2 linked regions of the Homo sapiens genome follow. The protein of the gene in region 1 interacts with the protein of each later gene in a biochemical or structural test. Each region holds a gene or a part of one and is shown on either strand. Other genes may lie near its edges. The genes, in order: TAC4 and TACR1.

The links.
Region 2: the proteins of TAC4 (region 1) and TACR1 form a complex in vitro, tested with the Homo sapiens proteins (one study listed by BioGRID).

The regions. Positions count from the first base shown.
Region 1 is NC_000017.11:49,841,470-49,845,069, reverse strand, and holds part of TAC4 (tachykinin-4 isoform alpha-2 precursor), read left to right. Parts: intron 1-912; coding exon 913-1,006; intron 1,007-3,485; coding exon 3,486-3,518; intron 3,519-3,600. UniProt on the Homo sapiens protein: Tachykinins are active peptides which excite neurons, evoke behavioral responses, are potent vasodilators and secretagogues, and contract (directly or indirectly) many smooth muscles.
Region 2 is NC_000002.12:75,052,696-75,056,823, reverse strand, and holds part of TACR1 (substance-P receptor), read left to right. Parts: intron 1-3,068; coding exon 3,069-3,219; intron 3,220-4,128. UniProt on the Homo sapiens protein: This is a receptor for the tachykinin neuropeptide substance P. It is probably associated with G proteins that activate a phosphatidylinositol-calcium second messenger system.

The sequences.
Region 1 (3,600 bases):
CCTCTCCTCATCTATGTTGGAGACACTTCCCATGATAGAGCAGAACCAGTACTGTGAAGTCAGACTTTGAATCTTGGCTCAGCCTCTTCCCGTGTGACCTTGGACAAGTCACTTAACCTCCTTACATCTCAGTTTCTCCATCTGTAAAATGCAGGGGCCGGGGGAAATCATAGTTTCTACTAGTTATGGTGGTTGTGAAGATTAAATGAGATTATGACTGCAGTGTTTCAGACCAGCCTTTGAGCCTGAGTTCAACTTCTGGTTCCACCTCTCACTTCCCAGCTGGGTGACCTTGGACAATTCTTTCTTTTTGAAATGGAGTCTTGCTCTGTCACCTAGGCTGGAGTGCAGGGGCAGGATCTTGGCTCACTGCAGCCTCTGCCTCCCAGGTTCAAGCAATTCTCCTGCCTCAGCCTCCTGAGTAGCTGGGATTACAGGTGTCTACCACCATGCCCAGCTAATTTTTGTATTTTTATTAGAGACGGGGTTTCACCATGTTGGCCAGGCTGGTCTCGAACTCCTGACCTCAAGCGACCCACCCATCTCGGCCTCCCAGAGTGCCGGGATTACAGGTGTGAGCCACTGCGCCCAGCTGAACAATTCTTTAACCTGTGTCTCGGTGTTTTCATGTGTAAAATGACAGTAACAGTACTTAGGGTACTGTTTTCCTGGTGTTTTGGTGAGGTTTAAATTAGTTACTAGATCAACGTGCTCAGAACATAGTAGGTGAAATGTTAGCTATTATTACAAAGATGTGCAGTACTGTGTAAAATATGCTGAGGTGCCCAGTGCCAGTGCACAGCAAGTCTCTGCTGACCACCAGCTGTCACTCCTGAGATTGCCATTGCCCAGGCTGGCCTCCCGTCTGCTGGACAACCTCCCAACTCTAACACTAACTCTCTGCTTCTTCAGGAAGGCGCTGGCCCCAGCATTCAGCTCCAGCTGCAGGAGGTGAAGACGGGCAAGGCAAGCCAGTTCTTTGGGCTGATGGGGAAGCGAGTGGGAGGTGAGTGACAATGACAATGGAGCCCAGCAAGCAGGGGTTCTGAGTGGGTTCTGCAACATAAAGCAGAGGCCCTAAGTCAAAGCCCAGTAACTGGGGTCAGGTACTCCAGTCCAGTAGGGGTCGCTCATGAGATGGGGTGGCACAGACTGTCCATAGGAATTATCATCCAGGCTGGGGGGCAGTGGCTCATGTCTGTAATCCCAGCACTTTGGCAGGCCGAGGTGGGTACATCACTTAAGGTCAGGAGTTTGAGACCAGCCTGACCAACATGGTGAAACCCCATCTCTATTAAAAATACAAAAATTAGACAGACATGGTGGCACGTGCCTGTAATCCCAGCTACTCAGGAGGCTGAGGCAGTAGAATTGCTTGAACCTGGGAGGCAGAGGTTGCAGTGAGCCAAGATCATGCCACTACACTCCAGCCTGGGCGACAAAGCGAGACTCCATCTCAAAAAAAGAAATTAGCATGCAACCAGGACACTTTGGGGAGTGTTAGTAATTACGCCAGGCAACAAGTGTAAACAAGGCTGTTCCCAACAATGGGGAGCACGGGCACCTGAAGGGTGGGGGCACAGGCTCTGCACCCTGAGTGGTGCCTTCCATGCTCTGGATGACTCTGGGGAGTGGCAGTGAAGCTAGAGACCAGTCTGGATGTGGGCAAAGCCACAAGCCAAGCTTTCTAGTCAATTTTCTTTGGCTGAAACAAAATTACTAACTTAAACCTGTGTTCCCTGAAGGCACTTTCAACTCAGGAGTCCTGTCCTTGGGGGACCAGGAGAAAATACTCTGCACACAGAGCAGTTTTCTCTTATTGTCAATATTACATTTTTTAAGTGGTAATGCTCCGTGTTGGCTTGGTGTGAAAAAACTGGCACTTTTACACTGTCTATTTGGAGGACACGTTCGCAATATCCAGGCAAGTTGGAAATGTGCTTACCTTTCTGACCCAGAGTCTCGCTTTTCAGGCAGACATGCTGTTACTACATGAGCCCTGAGGGTATTCACTGCCAACATGCTTGTAATAGCAAGAATTCGGAAATAACATAAACACCATCAATCAGGGAATGGTCAAAATCTATTACACGTATCCTTAACCCTTGTGGCCATTAAAGAGAATGAGGCAGACCCATAGAAAGATGTGGAAAGATCTCCAAGATACATGGTTAAGTGGGAAAAAGCATGTTACAGATCAATATTCAAGAGGAGCCTACTTGTTTTTAAAAAACGACATACACACAGATATGCAAATGCATGGGGAAAGTTCTAGAAGGATAAATATCAAACTGTAAACAGTGGTTACTTCAAGGACAGAAGTGGAGATGAGGGGGGAGAAAGGGAAGAGAGACTTTAAATTTTACTTGTACAAACCTTTTCAAAATAGTGGATGTATTCAAGGACTGCTTTTGTAATAAAAAAAAAATACACATATAAAAATAGAGAAAACCAACTTGTGACCAAGCACTTTTGGCCTTAGTTTCCTCTTCTACAAAATGAGTTCTGAACTGAGCCATTTCAAACTTCTTTTTTTTTTTGAGATGGAGTCTTACACTGTCACCCGGGCTGGAGTGCAATGGCGCAATCTCAGCTCACTACAACCTCTGCCTCCCGGGTTCAAGCAATTCTCCTGCCTCAGCCTCCCAAGTAGTTGAGATTACAGGCATCAGCCACCATGCCTGGCTAATTTTTTGTATTTTTAGTAGAGATGGGGTTTCACTATGTTGGCCGGGCTGGTCTCGAATTCCTGACCTCGTGATTCGCCCACCTCAGACTCCCAAAGTGCTGGGATTACAGGTGTGAGCCAACGCGCCCGGCCCATTTCAAACTTCTTTTCCAAATCCAACAACTCATGAAGGATGGGGGATGGGAATGTCAGAGAAAATACTTCTTGAGCACCTACTATGAGGCTGAGGTGGGAAGATCATGAGGTCAGGAGATCGAGACCATCCTGGCTAATGTGGTGAAACCCCATCTCTACTAAAAATACAAAAAAATTAGCCGGGCGTGGTGGCGGGCGCCTGTAGTCCTGGCTACTCGGGAGGCTGAGGCAGGAGAATGGCGTGAACCTGGGAGGCGGAGCTTGCAGTGAGCCGAGATCGCACCACTGCACTCCAGCCTGGGCGACAGAGTGAGACTCTCAAAAAAAAAAAAAAAAAAAAAAAAGATTAAATCTCCACAATAATATCCCCCTTATCACAAGCGGGGAAACTAAGGCTCAGATAGGTTAAGCACTTTTCCCAAGGATGCCCACCCAGCTGGCACCAGGTGCCAGTGACCCCAAAGTCTGTGCACTTCCAGCCACTCCACACTGCCCCCTACCAGCACATTCCTACTGCCACAGAGGATAACTGGGGATGACTAGAATTCTACTGAAGACCCACCAATGCACCAACCCTCAAAGAACTGGAGCCTTTTCCACCTCACCAAGCCCCCAGGGAAGCAGTGCAGTCCGTAGTCCTCATTCCTTCTCCTTCCCCCAGGAAGACCTCTGATCCAGCCAAGGAGAAAAAAAGGTAAGTATTGCCCAAACCTGCCTTCAACATGCCCCCTAGGGAGGGCTGAGTTGTCCTCAGCACAAACAAACCAGGTGGGTGA
Region 2 (4,128 bases), on another chromosome or scaffold:
TTTTAGCTGAAATTAAGCCCATTTTTTTTGTTGTTTTCAAATAAATAACAATAACTTTTGCTTCTTTAAAAAGGGAGGGATTTTTTAAAGGCTGATAAATTATGTTTACGTATTTATCTTTGCATGTTCATAATGATCTGATCTGTGATTTCACAAAGGGAAAGAGCAGATTGTATTTTGTATTCAGGTATGGTGTGGCCAACAGATCAGGACATGGTTACCACTGAAAGACACTTTATTACTCACAGTTCCCAAGCTGAAGGGCCATGGCCCCACACCAAGCCAAGCCACACAGGAAAGCCTTTATTGGGGTTTTCTCAGGAAGGAGCAGGCAAGGCCGGGTAAACAGGTTTAAGATTGGCTGGTTTGAATAACTTCGGCAGGCTCCGGGGTGTAGGAGCTGCCCCTAGTTGTCTGATGCCTGCCGTTGGGTGATTAGGGCGGGAAAATAGTGTCCTACCCTGTAAGAGCCCAAGAAAGCAAGCAAGTGGAAGTATGGGCTTTGTTTCGGTTAGTTTGCATATGAAAGGCATCCAAGTGGAAAGTTGTTTGTTTTCCAAAGGAATTAGCTCTGCCTGAAACAGTCCCTCCCTGAGCTGCAGGGACCCAGATGCCAAAGTATCAGATACAGAACCAGAAAACACAGTTAATACACACTTGAATAAAGTCATTAAATCACGGACAACAATGGAGTCCCAATAGACTTGCATACCTAAGGTCTGAAACAGTTCTCAGTGCTAGATGTCTATTACAGTAACTTGGGGGAAGTTTCTAAAATGTAATTTCCTGCTCCCAACCTCAAGTCAATTGAATGAATACCTTTGGGCACTGATCATTTTAAAAGTTTCCCTGGTGATTCTCTTTTACATTTGCGGTTGAGAACCGTTGGCCTAAGACAATGTTTCTCAAAGTCTGAACCACAAACAGCAACATCGGCATCTCTTGAGAACTTGTTAGAAATGCAAATTCTCAGGCCCACCCCAGCCCTGCTGAGTCTGAAACTCTGGGTGGGACCCAGCCCTGTGGGGTTGTCGAAGCCCTCCAGGTGATACTGAAGCCCACTCGAGTTTGAGGGCCACTGGTCCAGGGTAAGGAGTATCGGCGAGTTGACCATAGTGTCCCTCCCATCACACTCAGACCCAATCTTGCTCAGTGCCCTGTAGCAATGTCTCGGCAAAGCTCAGCTAACATGTTTTGGTCACAAACTATTAGTCTGCATGAGGCAGGGCTGTTCTTTCAGGTAGGAGAAGTCAGTGCAATTTGGAGGTTTTCAAGTTCTCCCTGCCCCTGTAGTCTCCAAACATTTTGCTTACAAGCAATGCCATTACAGCAACCAGGAGGGACTGAGATCAGCTAGGAAACACAATATGCTGTCCCTGCCATAGTGGTTGGAGAGCCCTGAGGCTCCCAAAGGAGGCGACAATTCAGAGGGCTTTGAAAGCCAGGTGAGACTGGAGCAGCCTGTCTGCACAGAACACATGCACTCACACCCTGCTTGGTGCAATCTGTGATTTGTCACTTAAGCAGTCTTTGAGTATCTTCAAATGCAAATTTGATATGCAGAGGGACTGAATAAGTAGCAAAAACTGTGGGGCTTTACAAAGAAGTGATTAAAAGCAAACAGTATCTACAAAGGAGAAATTGAGTGAATAAGTGGGTTTTCCTCATTGGAAGAAAATCATTGCATAAAATAATCATGAATGGTAAACAGAGGGGAAGAAAAAAATCATTGGGTGGCTTTTCTCCATTGACAAAAGGCTGGTTTTCTGACATCACAGACCTGGATTCTAATCTCAGCTCCTCCCTTTACCAGCTGTGAATTTGGGAAAATTAATTAAATTCTAAATGTGGTTTCCTCGTCTACAAAATGGGATTCATAGTACCTACCCAATCATTTGCTTAAGGATTAAATAAGATAATGCTAGTAAAATGCTTGGCTTTGTGCTTTTCATCAACACTCAAATTTAACTACCATTTCTGCTATTAATACTATCATTAGCATTATTATTAGCACAGTGACCTAGAGTAAGTGCCCCCAAACATTAGCTGTTCTTCCTAGTATTATTATTATTATTATTAGGAATTCTGAGTATCTCCATTATACTCACATCTAAGAAAAGGGCTGTAACTAACCAGACAAACCAAGGACCCCCAAACCCCCAAGAAAAATATATTTTCCCAAAATTCAAAAACCTTATTTAAGTCTGAAAAGGAGCCTTCCCTTTAACAGAAAAGGATAAATTGTGCTGCTGTAACAAACCTCAATATCTCAGTGGCTTAACACCACAAAGGTTTATTTCTTGCTCATGTCCCAGTCAAACGTGAGTCAGTTGGCACCTGTCCTCCAATGGGTAATTCAGGGACCCAGGCAGCTTCTATCTGAAGATATATTCTTAAAGCCCAGTCTTAGAAATGGCTTATGCTATGTGGCTTTCACCCACCCACTAATTCTAGTTCTAGGATTACTCTTATCTCTCTCATTCAGGCTAATTATTCTGATACCGATAAATTCACTTATCACATAGCATAAACTGGGCCTTATCAACCATCATGGTAGTTCTCAACTGAACGTACTAGTTGGTCTACAACCCTGCACTAAGTTGAGCATAAGTGTAGTCTGGCGGGTATGAATTGAGTGGTATAATTACTTCCTTCATTCAGAGACTATACTTCTATTAATGTAGCCTGAGTTTGCATTCTTGTTTTGGGGGGTGGTGTGGGGCAAGTGATATTGAACTGATCATCAACTGAAATCGCTATGGGTATACAACAGATTCAGTGCCCTGTCATCAATGTTTTCTTTTTTTTTAATCTGAACAGGAGTATTCATTATGGAAAAAGTCCACAAGAAAAACATAAATTGTTTTCTGTAGTGTATTCATTAGTATTACCTATCCACCCTATGCAGGTGACAAGTCTCCCTGGAGTGGGCTTTACAGCCCAAGCTTATTAATGGCATATGCTGAGAAAGGTAGCTGCCAAACCTTGACTGCAATAACAATAACAAAAATTAAAAACCTAAAATAATAAGTATATCATACTGACCTTTCCTGTTTACCTTGCTGTAGGTACCACATCTGTGTGACTGTGCTGATCTACTTCCTCCCCCTGCTGGTGATTGGCTATGCATACACCGTAGTGGGAATCACACTATGGGCCAGTGAGATCCCCGGGGACTCCTCTGACCGCTACCACGAGCAAGTCTCTGCCAAGCGCAAGGTGAGCAGGGGACAGGCAGAACTAACCCACCCTGGCACAGACAACAGGCTGTCGAGAAGGGATGGCACACTTGTGAGCCCCAGAGGCAGCTAGCACAAAATATCCCCAGGTATGGGGAGCAACAGAGAGGAGGAGAGGAATCTTTCTTCAGTGTCTTTGGAACCCAGATCTGGCTGGACAGGCATGAGCCACTTCGCTTGCTCTTAAAGAGTAATTGCAACCTCTTGATCCATTAAAACACACACACACACACGCACACTTAAATAAAAGATCAGTGAAGAGTGATTTGGTCCTCTTCTTAAAGTTTGACAAGATAATACATTCACGTGGTTCAAACATCAAAAGGCATTCAAAGGAACAAAATTATAGTGATGAAGAACGGATCAGGGGTTTCCAGGAGTCAGTGTTTGAGGGGGCTTGGGAGGAGTGGCCTACAAAGCGAGAGCGTGAGTGAGTTTCTTTGCAGTGATGGAGCAGCTCTGTATCCTGACTGTGGTGGTGTTTTCATCTATACCTGTGATGAAATTTCATAAATCTATACACCAAAAAAAACAGTGCATGTAAAAACTGGCAAAAACCCAAATATAGTCAGTAGTTTGATGAATGGTCAGTGTCCTGGTTTTGATAATGTGGTATGGTTATGTAAGATGATATCATTGGAGGAGGCTAGGTGAAGACTACCTGGAACTGCTTTGCACCACCTTTGCAACTTCTCGAGGGCCTTCAATTAGTTCAAAACGAAACATTTAAAAAAATTTAATTCTTATCATGGAAAGCCTCTCTCCCTTCTAGATCTGTCATCTACCCAGGTCCCAAGCTTGCACACACACACGCACACACACACACAGATATGCATACAATGGTAACCATTGTTATCTGTTTCTTAACCCTTCTAGCTATTGGCACTTA